Homo sapiens: one gene and its partner. The protein of the gene in region 1 binds, or shares a complex with, the protein of each later gene. Each region holds a gene or a part of one and is shown in the gene's direction. Other genes may lie near its edges.

What was found.
Region 2: EXOSC2 (region 1) and EXOSC1 share a complex: the UniProt entries of both Homo sapiens proteins name them as parts of the RNA exosome core complex.

The regions. Positions count from the first base shown.
Region 1 is NC_000009.12:130,688,672-130,696,946, forward strand, and holds the start of EXOSC2 (exosome complex component RRP4), read left to right. Parts: upstream 1-5,108; 5' UTR 5,109-5,120; coding exon 5,121-5,242; intron 5,243-6,820; coding exon 6,821-6,922; exon of another isoform or gene 6,923-6,935; intron 6,936-8,275. UniProt on the Homo sapiens protein: Non-catalytic component of the RNA exosome complex which has 3'->5' exoribonuclease activity and participates in a multitude of cellular RNA processing and degradation events.
Region 2 is NC_000010.11:97,435,514-97,443,343, reverse strand, and holds the end of EXOSC1 (exosome complex component CSL4), read left to right. Parts: intron 1-32; coding exon 33-107; intron 108-2,084; coding exon 2,085-2,173; intron 2,174-4,640; coding exon 4,641-4,674; coding exon of another isoform or gene 4,675-4,681; intron 4,682-5,593; coding exon 5,594-5,644; intron 5,645-6,068; coding exon 6,069-6,153; intron 6,154-6,792; coding exon 6,793-6,899; 3' UTR 6,900-7,435; downstream 7,436-7,830. UniProt on the Homo sapiens protein: Non-catalytic component of the RNA exosome complex which has 3'->5' exoribonuclease activity and participates in a multitude of cellular RNA processing and degradation events.

The DNA.
Region 1 (8,275 bases):
AATCCCAGCACTTTGGGAGGCCGAGGCGGGTGGATCACCAGGTTAGGAGTTCGAGAACAGCCTGGCCAACATGGTGAAACCCCGTCTCTACTAAAAATACAGAAATTAGCCAGGCGTGGTGGCAGGTGCCTAAAATCCCAGCTACTCAGGAGGCTGCAGTAGGTTCAAGAGGAGAATCGCTTGAGCCCAGGAGGCAGAGGTTGCAGTGAGCAGAGACCACACTATTGCACTCTAGCCTGGGCGACAGAGCAGGATTCCGTCTCAAAAAAAAAAAAAAAAAAAAAAAAAAGAGCAAATGCATGCTTAATACAAGGGCCTACTATATATCAAGCATATATACGAAATGGGCAGTGAACCAAATGGACAGTCTGGGTATTGGTGGGGCTCATATCCTGTGGGAAGACAGGCGATGAGCAGACAAGCAAATCTGTATTTTGTAAATATATTGTATTTTTTTCAACAAATATTTTATGGCTGCCCTGTGTGCCAGGCCTGGATCTAAGCATTGATATATGATGAACAGAATAGATAAAGTCCCTGTTTTCAGCAATGCATGTTCTAGTGGGGGGAGACTGCAATCAATGAACAAAAAAAAAAAAAAAAAGAAAGAAAATTGAAGCCCAGGCATGGTGGCTCACACCTGTAATCCCAGCACTGTGGGAGGCCAAGGTGGGCAGATCACTTCAGGTCAGGAGATTGAAACAAGCCTGGCCAACATGGTGAAACCCCGTATTTCCTAAAAATACAAAAATTAGCTGGGCGTGGTGATGGGTTCCTGTAATCCCAGCTACTCCGGAGGCTGAGGCAGGAGAATCTCTTTAACCCAGGAGGCAGAGGTTGCAGTGAGCTGAGATCGCGCCATTGCACTCCAGCCTGGGTGACAAGACCAAGTCTCTCTCTCAAAAAAGAAAGAAAAGAAAAGAAAAAGAAAAATCAGTGACAAGAAGTAAAACAGGATCAAGGGATTAAAAAAAAGGACTGGAAAGTTATTCCAGATAAGGTGATCAGGGAAGTCTTCTCTGAGGAGGTGATGTTTGAGCAAGCCATGAGTGAGGAGAAGGAGCCAGCCACACAAAAGCCTGGGAGAAGAGAATTCATGCAGAAAGAGACCAGAGTGAAGGGCCCTGGAGTGATGAGAAGCTTGGTGCTGTGGAACCGAGGGGAAGCCAGCTAGTCTTGAGGCAGGAGAATAGGGTCTGGAGGCAGGGAACATAAGGCTGATTCACACTGACTTTCTAGAACTAAATCAAAAGGAAAACCCCAACTTTCCACGTCCAAGTAACCAAAGGACCAGAGGCTACTCCCTTTGCAATCCCAGCTTTTCTGTGTGCAGATGAAAAACTGAAAGTACCTCTGATTGCTCCCTTCCCACTACCAGTCAGGCTGGTAGGTGGCCAAGTCTTCATTTGCATGGGAGTATAACTTTGTAACTTCACTTCAGCCTCTGATTGATAACTTTCCACAGCCAATCAGACATTGGCGTAGGGTGTAACTTTTAACTTCAGCCTCTGATTGGCCACTTTCCACAACCAATCAGACTGATCACGGGCCACTCCTTCATTTACACAGGGCGTACACCAAATAACCAATGGGAAACCTTTAGAGGGTATTTAAACCCCAGAAACTTCTGTAAGGAGCCTGTTGAGTTTCTTTGCTTGAGCTGTTCTTGCCCTGTAGAGTGTACTTTCGTTTTCAATAAATCTCTGCTTTTGTTGCTTTATTCTTTCCTTGTTTTGTCTGTATGTTTTGTCCAAGACGCCGAGAAGCTGGGCACCCTCCACCGTTAACAGTCCGGCTGCAGCATAGTGAGTAACGCAGTGGGTTAGGACGAGCGTGAGGTCAGAGACAGGCAGGAGTCAAGAAGTGCTGGAAGCAGAGAAGTGATTTAATCTGTTTTTAAAGCTCTCTCTGGCTGCTGTGCGGAGATTGGATGATAGGAAGGACAAAAGTAGAATTAGGAAGACAAGCTAGGAGGTTATCTCCCTGGTAAGAGATGCCGTTGATCAGCCTGGGGCAGTGGCTGCGGAGATGCACAGATGTGTGGCATCAGTGAATCTTAGACCTTTTCCGCCATTGAAATTACATAGGGAGTTAAAACACGCACAGACTTCTGGACCTTACCTTTGCAGAGCCTTGTGAAAGGCAAATAAATCTTGGGGCCCCAAAATCACTAAGCTAAAGGGAAAAGTAAGTCAAGCTGGGAACTGCTTAGGGCAAACCTGCCTCCCGTTCTATTCAAAGTCACCCCTCTGCTCACTGAGATAAATGCATACCTGATTGCCTCCTTTGGAGACGCTAATCAGAAACTAAAAATACAAAAAATGCAACCATTTGTTTCTTTTTTCTTTCTTTTTTTTTTTTTTTTTTTTTGAGACGGAGTCTCACTCTGTCGCCCAGGCTGGAGTACAGCGGTGCGATCTCGGCTCACTGCAAACTCCGCGTCCCGGGTTGAAGCCATTCTCCTGCCTCAGCCTCCCGAGTAACTGGGACTACAGGCACCAGCCACCATACCCGGCTAATTTTTTTTTTTTTTTTTTTTTTGTATTTTTAGTAGAGACGGGGTTTCACCGTGTTAGCCAGGGTAGTCTCGATCTCCTGACCTCGTGATCCGCCCACCTCGGCCTCCCAAAGTGCTGGGATTACAGGCGTGAGCCACCGCGCCTGGCCTCAACCATTTGTTTCTTATCTACCTATCACCAGGAAGCCCCTTCCCAGCTTCGAGTTGTCCAGCCTTTCCAGACCGAACCAATATTCATCTCACATATGTTGATTGATGCCTCATGTCTCCCCAAAATGTATAAAACCAAACTGCGCTCCGACCACCTTGGGCACAGGTTGTCAGGACCTCCTGAGCTTGTGCCACAGGCACATCCTCAATCTTGGTGAAATAAACTTTCTAAATTAACTGAGACCTGTCTCAGATATTCGGGGTTTACAGCCTCAATGCCTAAGGAATCTATACTTTTTACAAGCCCCCTGGGATGTGCTGCTTCGTCTCCGGGTACCCACTTGTCTACTGGTCGTAAAGGGGTAAGTGTGGCCGGGCTTGGTGGCTCATGCCTGTAATCCCAGCACTTTGGGAGGCCAAGGTGGGCGGATCACTTGAGTTTAGGAGTTCGAGATCAGGTTGGGCAACACGGTGAAACCCTGTCTTCACAAGACAAATACAAAAAATTAGCCGAGCCTGGTGGCATGTGCCTGTAGTCCAAGCTATTCAAGAGGCTGAGGTGGTAGGATTACCTGAGCCCAGGAGGACGAGGCTGCAGTAAGCCATAATCGTGTCATTGTACTCCAGCCTGGGTGACAAAGACTCTGTCTCGAAAAAAATAAAAATAAAAAAAGGTGCGTGTGATGATGCAGAAAGAGGAGCACTGGGGATGGGAGAGGGGGAGTCCCTGTCGTTTTGGATTCTAGTCCCAGTTACGGGTCTGTTTGGGGGGCTCGGTGGCCCCAAGTGATCATCAGGGATAGCAATGCCTATCTCGAAGATGGGCTGAAAGTGAGGAATACATAACATAGTATTTGTAAAGCACTCAGCAAAGGACCAGCCGAAGCACTCGGGCTATTTCTGGTAAAGGGTGCAGGCTCTGGGGTAAATCGCGTGCAGTTGGAACACACATCGGCTTTGCAGCCATCTGCTAATGTGAATTCCATTCCTTTTGGGGCCTCGATTTCCTCCTCCATAAACTGGTATCCACAATGCCAACCTTGTGAACGCTGTGAGAATGCGCGGGGTAAAGGCGACGTCTCTCCCTCCCGGGAAGAACTTGGATGGTGTCAGGCCTACACTCTCGCTCCGCCTAGGGCCGCTCGCTGGGCCTGGCTCCCCGGCTGCCGGGCTACGCGAGCTCAGAGGACACCATCGCCCTCTTATGGCCGCGGCAGGACTGGACCGAGGGGCTGGGCTCTAGTGCCTTCCTCCAGGCACGGCAGAGGGCGAGGGTCTGGCAGCCCGCTTACCCAGGGCCTCGGGGCACTAGCATTCATGTCATCGACTGCCTGGCAGGGCTGGCTTTCTTAAGTGTGGTCGTGAGACTTGCTTAAGTGGAAGAAATGCTGTCGCTTTGGAGATTTATAAAACAATTGGCTCGATGGATCTTTCTTCAGGAGGCGGACTTGGTTTACCGGCTTTACTGACCACAGCTGATGCCAATGATTTCATTTAATCGTCTTTAGAGTCCCTGTGCATGGGGAGTTACCATCCCCAATTAGTTTCTTGTGAATGCAGGGCAAGGAGAGGGAGAGGGTAGTGGGGGACGGGGAGAAGGGGCGAGGGGTACCCTCCTATTAAAACGGAGCCGCAGAAAAACCCACAGAGACATCCGTCTGTTCCCCGCTGAGTCCTTAGAACAGCGCCTGGCACACAGAGAGCGCTCAACTCGCTGTGTAACTAAATGCAAGCCAAGATCTTCGCATTGTGTGTGCTCTTCCCTTCCCTACCAAATATACCTGGCTTGCAAGGTTTGACCTGTTTTCTTAGACGATTTTTAACTTGTTTCCAAAAGAAATATTGGAGTAAATTAGCTTGTTCAAAGGAGTCCTTATGAAAGGACAGAACCAAGTGAGAAGTATCTGGAGCCCGGTTTGGGGTTATAGATGATGATGTTGAGCCAGCACCCACGGGGCGGCCGCAATGTAGAATCCTGGCGCTACTGGGAACCGTGTGGAAAGGGGCTCTTCTTTCTGTTCAAATAGTGTTTTCTGTAGATCCCATCTCTCCATCCTCCTGAGCTCTCTCTTACAAAATATCGGATTTCAGCAGCTTAGAATTGGACAGAAACTCAGAGGTCCGTTTCTCAATTATCTCTAACCCTGGTAAACAATAAATGGGATGATGAGTACAAGACAGTTTTGGTAAAAAGTCACACGCCACACAACGTGAGATTTTATTATTCCACGGGTGCTTCCTTGCCAATAGTAGACATGGCAGCTCGGCTCCCTTCCCTTCGGGTTCGCCTTATTGTTGCCAATTGTAAACATGGCCTCTAGGCCGTGAGTTCTCATTGGCAGCTGCTCTGAGTCCCCGCCCTTCCCCGCCCCTCCGAACGCGGCCTGGAGTTGTGGAGTCGGATATCGCAGCTCCCGACTGAGCTGCGCCTGCGCAACTCATTGGCGCCAAGATGGCGATGGAGATGAGGCTTCCAGTGGCTCGCAAGCCTCTTAGCGAGAGACTGGGCCGCGACACTAAGAAACATCTAGTGGTGCCGGGGGATACAATCACTACGGACACAGGATTCATGCGGTACGTGGGGACTTGGGGGAGTCGAGGCTTCAGAGAGCGGCTTCAGGGCTCTCTGCACGTGGTCCAGGCCTCGTATCCCTGTGTGTGTAACTCCCCGCGGGACCCAGGGCACTTCGTCTGAGCATCCTACACACCTCGCTTCCGAGCCTCGTGCTTCTTGCTCCCTGCATCTTGTGTGTCCCCGTCTGCATTTGTCTCAGCTCCCTGAAACCCTCCACTCCTGACCTCCGGTGGCTGTGACTTTTGGGTCTTCTGCCTGAAGTCCAAATCTTTGATCCTTCCTTGTGGGAGACCTGGAAAGCTGGGGAGGGTTAGGTGCAGGCTCTTTTCCAGTTTTCAGCTCTCTGAGGGGACGGTGGGCGTTCTTGGCTGCCTCCTCTTCAGTTTAGAATCCGTAATTGTTCGATCTTAGGGCAAACAGTTACATTGTGCTGCATGCACCCATTTATACACATTTTGAATCTAAGGGGTGTAGTGCAGTGTATTGTGGTTAAGAGGGAAGGCTCTTGAGTCAGACAGTTGGGGTTCCGGTCCTGCTACCATCACATCTTATTAGCGGCATTGCCTCTCCACGGTCAGTTTCCTCATCTGTAAGATAGTGATAATAACAGTATGATACGGTAATGAGGATTAAATGAGACAATTATGTAAGAAAAGAAGTAAAACCAGCCATTATATCATCATAGATAACACTAGTGTTTCAACCTTTATTATTATTATTTTTTTACTTGTATATGTACAAGGGGCACAGCATTCATAGCATTGCCCTTTAACCTGTTAGTTTAAGGTTAGTGGATACCAGGAAATTTTTTTTTCTTTTTTGAGACGGAGTCTGTCTTAGATCAGTCGTGCGATCTCGGCTCACTGCAACCTCTGCCTCCTGGGTTCAAGTGATTCTCCTGCCTCAGCCTCCTGAGTAGCTGGGATTACAGGTGCACGCCACCATGCCTAGCTAATTTTTGGTTTTTTTTTTTTTTAGTAGAGACAGGGTTTCACTGTGTTGGCCAGGCTGGTCTCGATCCCCTGACCTCAAGTGTGATCTGCCCGCCTCGGCCTCCCAAAGTGCTGGGATTACAGGCATGAGCCACCATGCCTGGCCCCTAGGAAATCTTAAGATTCATTCTTTCATTAATGCTTTCAACATATATTTTGTGCAGTTGGGTTATTATGGCAGAGTGAAAAATCTCTGTCCTGGTGGAGTTCTAACAGGGAGAGATAGATAATAAGCGCAATGAATAAGTTATTCAGAATGTTAGGCAATAATGCAATAGGGAAAAAAGTGGAGCAGGGTCAATGGTATGTGGGGGGAATGGTGGCAACAGGGTGGGCTGTGTTTTCAATGGCACAGTCAAGGTAGGCCTGCTGCAGAAAGTGACACCTGAGCAGACCTGAGTGAGAGGAGTGATGTCCAAGTAGCTGTCTGGAGAAGGAGCACTGAAGGCAGAGGGAGCAGCCAGCACAGAAGCCACGCTTTGCAGGGGGAGCCTGTTAGCTTTGAGGAACACGTTGTTCTTGAAGGGAGAGAAGTCATTTCGAGTTACCCTCGTATCCTTTCTTTGTATCTTCGCCTTGCATCAGGGGCCATGGAACGTATATGGGAGAAGAGAAGCTCATTGCATCTGTTGCTGGCTCTGTGGAGAGAGTAAACAAGTTGATCTGTGTGAAAGCTTTGAAAACCAGGTGAGAACAAAAGGTGTGTATTCCCTTTCTTGCAGCATCAGGTTGTACAACCAGGCTTTTCCTGCCCCCTCCTTATCCCCCACCCCACCCCTGCCTGCCCTGTCATGCTGTAAGTCTGAGGTTTTGACCATGACTGTAGGTGGGGTGGTGCAGATCAGTGCAGGCTTCAGAGGTTTCCCCATGTTATGTCACCACTCCAAGCCTTGGTTACCTCCTCTGCAAAGTGAGTATAATAGCATGGCCTACTTCATAGGATTTTCTCTTTTTTTTTTTTTTTTTTTTTCCGAGATGGAGTCTTACTCTGTTGCCGAGGCTGGAGTGCAGTGGCGTGATCTCGGCTCACTACAACCTTCGCCTCCCGGGTTCAAACAATTCTCCTTCTTCAGCCTCCCGAGTAGCTGGGATTACAGGCGCCCTCCACCACGCCTGGCTAATTTTTTTCGATTTTTAGTAGAGACAGGGTTTCACCATGTTGGCCAGGCTGGTCTCGAACTGCTGACCTCTGATGATTTCCCCCCACTTGGCCTCCCAAAGTGCTGGGATTACAGGCGTGAGCCACTGTGCCTGGCCTAGGATTTTCTTTAGAATTCAGTGAGATGGTGCCTGTAAAGTATTTAGCACAGAGCCTGATACCTAGAAGCATTCAATGAAGGTTAGCCCCAGAAAGCAAGCCAGTGGGGTTGGAACAGAGTGAGTGAGGGGGAGAGAAGGGGCAGATGTAAGCAGAGAGCTGAGGTGGGCGGGCGTGGGCCTGCCTTGTAGCCAGAGTAAGCATTTTGGCTTCTACTTTGTGTAATCTGGGAAGCACTGGAAGGGGTGGAGCAGAGGAGGGACTTGATCTGGACTTAAGCTCACTCTGGCTGCTGATGGGAGATTGAAGGGGGATAGGGCAAGCTTAGGGAGGTGGATTAGGGACCATACTCATGATCTGAAGTGATGGTGGCTTCAACTAAGGTGGGAGCAGTGGAAGGTGGAGGAGTGATTGGAATCTACACAGATTTTATTTTCCGAGTGTTTTTTTAAAATCATGAAAAGCTGTTGGGTTTTGTATTCTTTGGGCTTTACTGTGCATAGGACCCCGTCAACTGTGAATAGAAATAAGTTTACTTCTTCCTTTCCAATTTGGATGCCTTTTATTTCCTGCATATGTTTTAAGGGTAGAGCCAACAGGTTTTGCTACTGGACTTGTCCTGGAGCGTGAGAGAGAGAGAGGAATCAAGGAACTCTCCGAGGTTTTTGGCCTGAGCAACTGAGGGGATGGAGTCACCGTTGACTGAGATGGGGACAACTCATCCCCTATCTCGGTTTGCTATGGAGGACTGGAGGGGGCTGCGGGAAAGCTTAGTTTTGTGC
Region 2 (7,830 bases), on another chromosome or scaffold:
GACATTTCAGTTTTTTGTTGTTCCCTCTGTAGCTTCCAGTGGTGTCTGTAGTGAGAGAAACAGAGTCCCAGTTACTGCCAGATGTGGGAGCTATTGTAACCTGTAAGGTAAGTTGGTCCTGACCTCCATGCTTAGAATGCCCATTCAATACTGAAATCATGACCATACCAGAACTGCAGTGTCCAGTATGATAGCCACAAGCTACATAAATTTATTTCTGGCAGGGCACAGTGGCTCACACTGGTAATTCTAGCACTTTAAGAGGCCGAGGCAGGAGGATTGCTTCAGCCCAGAGTTCAAGACCAGCCTGGGAAACATAGTGAAACCTCATCTCTACAAAAAGAATCAAAAATTGCCGGGCATGGTGGCTCATGCTTGTAATCCCAGCACTTTGGGAGGCCGAGGTGGGCAGATCACCTGTGGTCAGGAGTTCAAGACCAGCCTGGCCAATCATGGCCAACATGGTGAAACCCTGTCTCTACCAAAAATACAAAAATTAGCTTAGCGTGGTGGTGCATGCCTGTAATCCCAGCTACTCGGGAGGCTGAGGCAGGAGAAGTGCTTGAACCCAGGAGGTGGAGGTTGCAGTGAGCCTGCGTCACAGCAGTCCAGCCTGGGCAACAGAGTGAGACTCCGTCTCAAAAAAAAAGAAGAAGAAGAATAAAAAATTAGCCAGGCATGGTAGCACATGCTTGTGGTCCCAACTACTTGGGAGGCTGAAGCAGGAAGATCGCTTGGGCCCAGGGGGTTGAGGCTGCAGTGAGCCATGATCACTCCAGCTTGGGTAACAGGGCAAGACTCTGTCTCTCAAGAAAAAAATAAAATTGATTTCCTTAGTCACATTAGCCACATTTCAAGTACTCAATAGCCACTTGTGGCTAGTGGTTGCTATACTGGTCAGCACATGACTTTTCTGTCATCACAGAAAGTTTTACTGGACTGTGCAGGCTTACAGATTTCTAGGATAATAATCAAGGCAGCCAAGTTCAGGCATGCATAGTTCCTTCACTGAGCTGATTCCCTGAATACATAGTTCTACCTGTGTCTGGGAAACAGGGATGCCAGAGGATGATTAGGAGGCCTATTTTTGAACATCTGAAGCTGAGTTCTTTTTCTGCAGAGAAGCAAAAGACTTTATTTTTTGCCATTCCTGTTTTTTTTTTTTTGAGACAGGGCCTTGCTCTGTCACCCAGGCTGGAGTGCAGTGGCACGATCTCGGCTCACTGCAGCCTCTGGCCTCTTGGGTTCAAGCAATTCTACTGCCTCTGCCTCCCGAGTAGCTGGGATTATAGGCATGTGCTGCCACGCCTGGCTAATTTTTGTATTTTTAGTACAGGTGGGGTTTTACCATGTTGGCCAGGCTGGTCCTGAACTCCTGACCTCAAGTGATGCGCCCACCTCAGCCTCCCAAAGTGCTGGGATTACAGGCATGAGCCACTGTGTCCAGCCTCTTTTTTTTTTTTTTTTTTAATTGTTAGCCATCTATACTTTAAAAAGTCTATACCTCTCTGAAGGGCAAGTTGTGAAAAGATTTAAAAAAAAAAAAAAAAACCCAGCCGGATGCAGTGGCTTACACCTGTAATCCCAGCACTTTGGGAGGCTGAAGCAGGCGAATCACCTGAGATCAGGAGTTCGAGACCAGCCTGACCAACATGGAGAAACCCTGTCTCTACTAGAAATACAAAATTAGCTGGGCATGGTGGTGCATGCCTGTAATCCCAGCTATTCAGGAGGCTAAGGCAGGAGAATTATTTGAACCCAGGAGGCGGAGGTTGCGGTGAGCCAAGATCGCGCCATTGCACTCCAGCCTGGGCAACAAGAGTGAAACTCCGTCTCAAAAAAAAAAAAAAAAAAAAACCCATACCACCTTTGTTTCCCATAGTAACTCTACCAGGTGGCCAGAGTGGCTCTTATTCCTCTTTACATGTGTCACTTACGCAGAGAGAAGTAGGAGTTAATTTGTCTTAAATTCTCTACTTAGTAGGGTTGCTTGCACTGAAGCCCTAGTAATCCCCAGTTTATTGCTGCCTCCTTGAGCTGACAACTGCTTATACTCTGATGCTGATCTTTTCTCTATTCCGCAGGTCTCTAGCATCAATTCACGCTTTGCCAAAGTACACATCCTGTATGTGGGGTCCATGCCTCTTAAGAACTCTTTTCGAGGAACTATCCGGTAAGAAGTATCCTTTTCACATATACCTTAGCAACTGGAATAAGATTAGGATAGACTAGGACACCAGAATTTTGAGCAACAGTTACAATTCCTATTTTTCTTTTGCCCGTTTTTCTTTCTTCTTTGTGCTTTGATTCTCCCCTAGTAGTATCCAAAAAATACATGGATGATCTAGGACAAAAGGAAAATATTAACGAGAGGGTTTAAAAGTAAAGCAAAGGCTGGGCGCGGTGGCTCACGCCTGTTATCCTAGCACTTTGAGAAGCTGAGGCGGGTGGATCTCTTGAGATCAGGAGTTTGAGACCAGCCTAGCCAACATGGTGAAACCCCATCTCTGTAAAAAATACAAAAATTAGCCAGGCACAGTGGCTCACACCTGTAATCCTATCACTTTGGGAGGCTGAGGTGGGTGGATCACAAAGTCAGGGGTTTGAGACCAGCCTGGCCAGTGTGGTGAAACCCTGTCTCTACTAAAAATACAAAAACTAGCCGGACATGTTGGCGTGTGCCTGTAATCCCAGCTGCTCAGGAGGCTGAAGCCAAAGAATCGCTTGAACCCAGGAGGCAGAGGTTGCAGTGAGCCAAGATTGCGCCATTGCACTCCAGCCTGGGGGACAGAGCGAGACTCTGTCTTTAAAAAAAAAAAAAAAAAAAATTAGCTGGGCATGGTGGTGCGTGCCTGTACTCCCAGCTACTTGTGGAGCTGAAGCAGGAAGATCACTTGAGCCTAGGAGGCAGAGGTTGCAGTGAGCTGAGATTGCACCACTGCACTCTAGCCTGGGCAACAGAGTGAGACCCTGTCTCAAAAAACAAATAAATAAATAAAAGGTAAAGCAAAAAGAATTGAGTGAAGCTGAAGTTTAGCAGTGTCAGGATGACTCAAACCAAAGTAGAAGGCAGGCTGGGCGTGGTGGCTCATGCCTGTAATCCCAGCACTTTGGGAGGCCGAGGCGGGCGGATCACCTGAGGTCGGGAGTTCGAGACCAGCCTGACCAACATGGAGAAACACCGTCTCTACTAAAAATACAAAATTAGCCAGGCGTGGTGGCACATGCCTATAATCCCAGCTACTAGGGAGGCTGAGGCAGGAGAATCACTTGAACCTGGGAGGCGGAGCTTGCGGTGAGCCAAGATCGTGCCATTGTACTCCAGCCTGGGCAACAAGAGTGAAACTCCGTCTCAAAAAAAAAAAAAAAAAAAGTAGAAGGCATTTTAGGAAGCACTTTAAAATTTAATATAGATTGAACTCAGAGGTTATAAAACATTGAAAAGATTTGTGGGTGAGATGGTGATTTCGTGTGGCTTCCTTGAGAAAGGACAAACATTTCTTGCCAGGCAGATAATCTAACTTTTGAGGCCCTTTCCAGCCTCAGGATTTGATGTGGTTCTGTAGTGCAGCAGTCCCCAACCTTTTTGGCACCAGGGACCAGTTTCTTGGAAGACAGTTTTTCCACAGACCATGGAGGGGGTGGTTGCAGAATGATTCAAGTGCATTACATTTATGGTGCACTTTATTTCTGTTATTATTACACTGTAATATATAATGAAATAATTATACAGCTCACCATAATATAGAATCAGCGGGAGCCCTGAGTTTGTTTCCCTGCAATTCGATGGTCCCATCTGGGGGTGATGGGAGACAGTGACAGATCATCAGGCATTAGATTCTCATAAGGAGTGGGCAGCCTAGCTCCCTCATATGTGCAGTTCACAATAGGGTTCATACTTCTATGAGAATCTAATGCCCACTTCGATCTGACAGGAGGCGGAGCTCAGGCAGTAATGTATGCGATTGGGAAGCAGCTGTAAATACAGATGAAGCTTGCCTGCCACTCACTTCCTTCTATGCAGCCCGGTTCCTCACAGGCCACCAGAAGTTGGGGGCCCTTGCTATAGTGCTTCTGTTCAAGCCCTGAGGCAACGAAATTCCTTATCCTTTCTTGCCAAATCCGATCTGCCTTTATCTAATCAGAGGTATTGATACTGCCTCTCCATGTGGTCTGAGGATGCTTCTCCACCCTGCTCCTCTGGGTAGCAGCTGTGTCCCATTTACAACTTGTTCTGTCTGTTCTTGTAGCTCTTTATTTACTAGGAATCTACAGAATAATTCTTTCTCACAGGCTGGGCAAGGTGACTCATGCCTGTAATCCCAGCACTTTGGGAAGCTGAGGCGGGTGGATCACCTGAGGTCAGGAGTTCAAGACCAGCCTGGCCAACATGGTGAAACCCCATCTCTACTAAAAATACAAAAAACTAGCTGGGCATGGCGGACGTGCCTGTAATTCCAGCTGCTTGAGAGGCTGAGGCACGAGAATTGCTTGAACCCAGGAGGCGGAGGTTGCAGTGAGCAAAATTGCGCCACTGTACTCCAGCCTGGGTGACAGAGGGAGACTCTGTCTCAAAAAAAAAAAAAAAAAAAATTCTTTCTCACAGGTAATTAATCTTTCTGTTAATTCTTTTTTTATAGCAAGGAAGATGTCCGAGCAACTGAAAAAGACAAGGTTGTTGGTTGGTTCTTTTTTTTTAATGGCTTTACGTATCTCAATCCCTTAAAAGTATTATCTCAGGCCAGGCATGGTCACACACACCCGTAATCCCAGTACTTTGGGAGGCTGAGGCGGGAGGATCACTTGAGTCCAGGACTTCAAGACCAGCCCTGGCAACATAGCGAGACCCTGTCTCTACAAAAATTTTAAAAATTCAAAAATTGGCCAGGCATGGTAGCTCATGCCTGTAGTCCCAGCTGCTTGAGAGGATGTGGCTGGAGGATTGCTTGAGCCCAGGAGTTTGAGGTTAAGTGGTGGCACGCACCTGTAGTCCTAGCTACTTGGGAGGCTGAGGCAGGAGGATCCCTTGGTCCAGCAGTCCAAGGCTGCAGTGAGCTACCATTGCATCACTGCACTCCAGCCTGGGTGACACAGTGGGATCCCACCTCTTAAAAAAAAAGAAAAAAGGGCCGGGTGCAGTGGATCACACCTGTAATCCCAGCTCTTTGGGAGGCCAAGGTGGGCGGATCACAAGGTCAGGAGTTCAAGACCAGCCTGACCAACATGGTGAAACCCCGTCTCTACTAAAAATATAAAAACTAGCCTGTGTCGTGCCATGCACCTATAATCCCAGCTACTCAGGAGGCTGAGGCAGGAGAATCGCTTGAACCCGGGAGGCAGAGGTTGCAGTGAGCCGAGATCGCACCACTGCACTCCAGTGTGGGCGACAGAGCGAGACTCCATCTCAAAAAAAAAAAATTTTCATTTGTATGATAATACTGTAGAAGCAATTAAAAGTTCTTGACTTGACATGAGTAATGATGATTTCTACCCTCCAGGATTAGAAAGTAGATTGGCTTTACCAGAAGCGTTCACAGTTTCATATAGACCCAGTCTAGAGCTTTCACTTAACATTCCTGTTCTTTCTTTACAGGTTGAAATTTATAAGAGTTTCCGCCCAGGTGACATTGTCTTGGCCAAAGTGGTATCCTTTATTCCCAGCAGACTTCTGGTCCTTTGTCAAAAGAAGAGAAGGAGGCCGGGTGTGGTGGCTCATGCCTGTAATCCCAGCACTTTCGGAGGCCAGGGCGGGTGGATCACCTGAGGTCAGGAGTTCGAGACCAGCCTGGACAACATGGTGAAACCCTGTCTCTACTAAAAATACAAAAATTAGCTGGGCGTGGTGGCACATGCCTGTAATCCCAGCTATTCGGGAAGCTGAGGCAGGAGAACCGCTTGAACCTGTGAGGCAGAGGTTGTGAACTGATATCACGCCACCGCACTCCAGCCTGGTTAACGGAGCAAGACTCCATCTCAGAAAAAAAAAAAGGTAGAAAAACAACTCAGGTGGCTAAGGTGGGGGAAGACTTCTAACTCCTCATTTTCCTTCACCGGTGTTATGTGACTAGATCTCCTTAGGTGATGCACAGTCCAACTACCTGCTAACCACCGCCGAGAACGAGCTGGGAGTGGTGGTAGCCCACAGTGAGTCAGGTGAGATGGCCTTGTTTCCACATCCTTACTTTCCCTGGATCTATGGTTTGGGATAAATCCATTGTTTTTCCTGGTTTCCCTTATCTGGGAAGCAGTATGGCTATAGATATTTCCCTCTGAGATTAGAATGATTATTTTTTTCTTTTTTGCTTGGTGCTGGTGGTGGTGGTTGTTTGAGACAGGGTCTCACTTTGTCGAGGAGGCTGGAGTGCAGTGGTGCCATCTCCACTCACCACAGCCTCCACCTCCTTGGTTCAAGCAATTCTTGTCACCCAAGTAGCTGGGATTACAGACACACGCCACCACACCTAGCTAATTTTTGTATTTTTAGTAGAGACAGGGTTTCGCCATGTTGGCCAGGCTGGTCTCAAACTCCTGGCCTCAAATGATCTGCCCGCCTTGGCCTCCCAAAGTGCTGGGATTACAGGTGTGAGCCACCACGCCCAGCCTGATTCTCCTTATATAAATCCAAGGAAACGGGACTCACTTCATAAGTCAGTAGAATGAACAAAGTTTTTTCTTTATGAGTTGAGGTTCAGTAGGAAGCTTGGTGGCACTTCAGCTTCATACCCAGCATAAAAGAGGAGTCGCAGGCAAATCTTTGGGGTCTGGGCTCCACCACCAGCTTTTCCCTTCCAGGTATCCAGATGGTTCCCATCAGCTGGTGTGAGATGCAGTGCCCTAAGACCCACACTAAAGAATTCCGGAAAGTAGCCCGAGTACAACCCGAATTCTTGCAGACCTAAGAAGCCACTTTTTACCCTATGGAAGGGGGTAAGCTGTTCCTGAGTATAACACCAAGATGCTGCTGTCTTTATTCAAACACCTGGCGTCGGCCAACAGCCACTTCCAGAAAAATCTTCCAGTTTACGCTGTAGATGGAACATGTTTCTGTGAACCTATCAGTGGATTTCATTCTCTTGAGTAATAAATCTTATCTTTTCAAGGCACCAACAAACAAAACTGTGATATTGGAAATAGCCTATCCCTCCTGACAGTCCTTATAAATACATATTTTTTGCTATGATAAAACTTTTTTACTAAAAGGATGTTATAGAGTCTGTTGTCTTAAGCAGAGAAAGACATCTAAATGGTGTCAGGACATTTCAGTACTTCTGCTTATTGAGTACTTACTGTGCTAGGCACTGAGTCAGGTGCTTTACATACGTCCCCTTCATTTAGGTACATTGTGATTTAATGAAAATTTGAGGACACGTGGTGATACAGATAGCATGTGAGGCAGGCATGGTGGCTCATGTTTGTAAATCCCAGCACTTTGGGAGGCCGAGTTGGGTTGAAGTCAGGAGTTTGAGACCAGCCTGGCCAACATGGTGAAACCCCATCTCTACTAAAAATACAAAAATTAGCCGGGCGTGGTGGCACATGCCTGTAATCCCAACTACTCAGGAAGCTGAGGCAGGAAGATCGCTTGAACCCTGGAGGCAGAGGTTGTAGTGAACCGAGATTGCACCACTGCACTCCAGCCTGGACAACAGAGCGAGACTCTGTCTCAAAATAAATAAATAAATAACATGTCTAAAAGTATTTGATACACATCACTGATATAGTGGGTACTCCAGGAAATGTTAAATCTGAATTGAAAAGTGGGACAGAGTACTGTCATATGAGGTGGCCAGGAAAGGATTAGTGACGTGAGATCAAAATAAATTAAAGAAC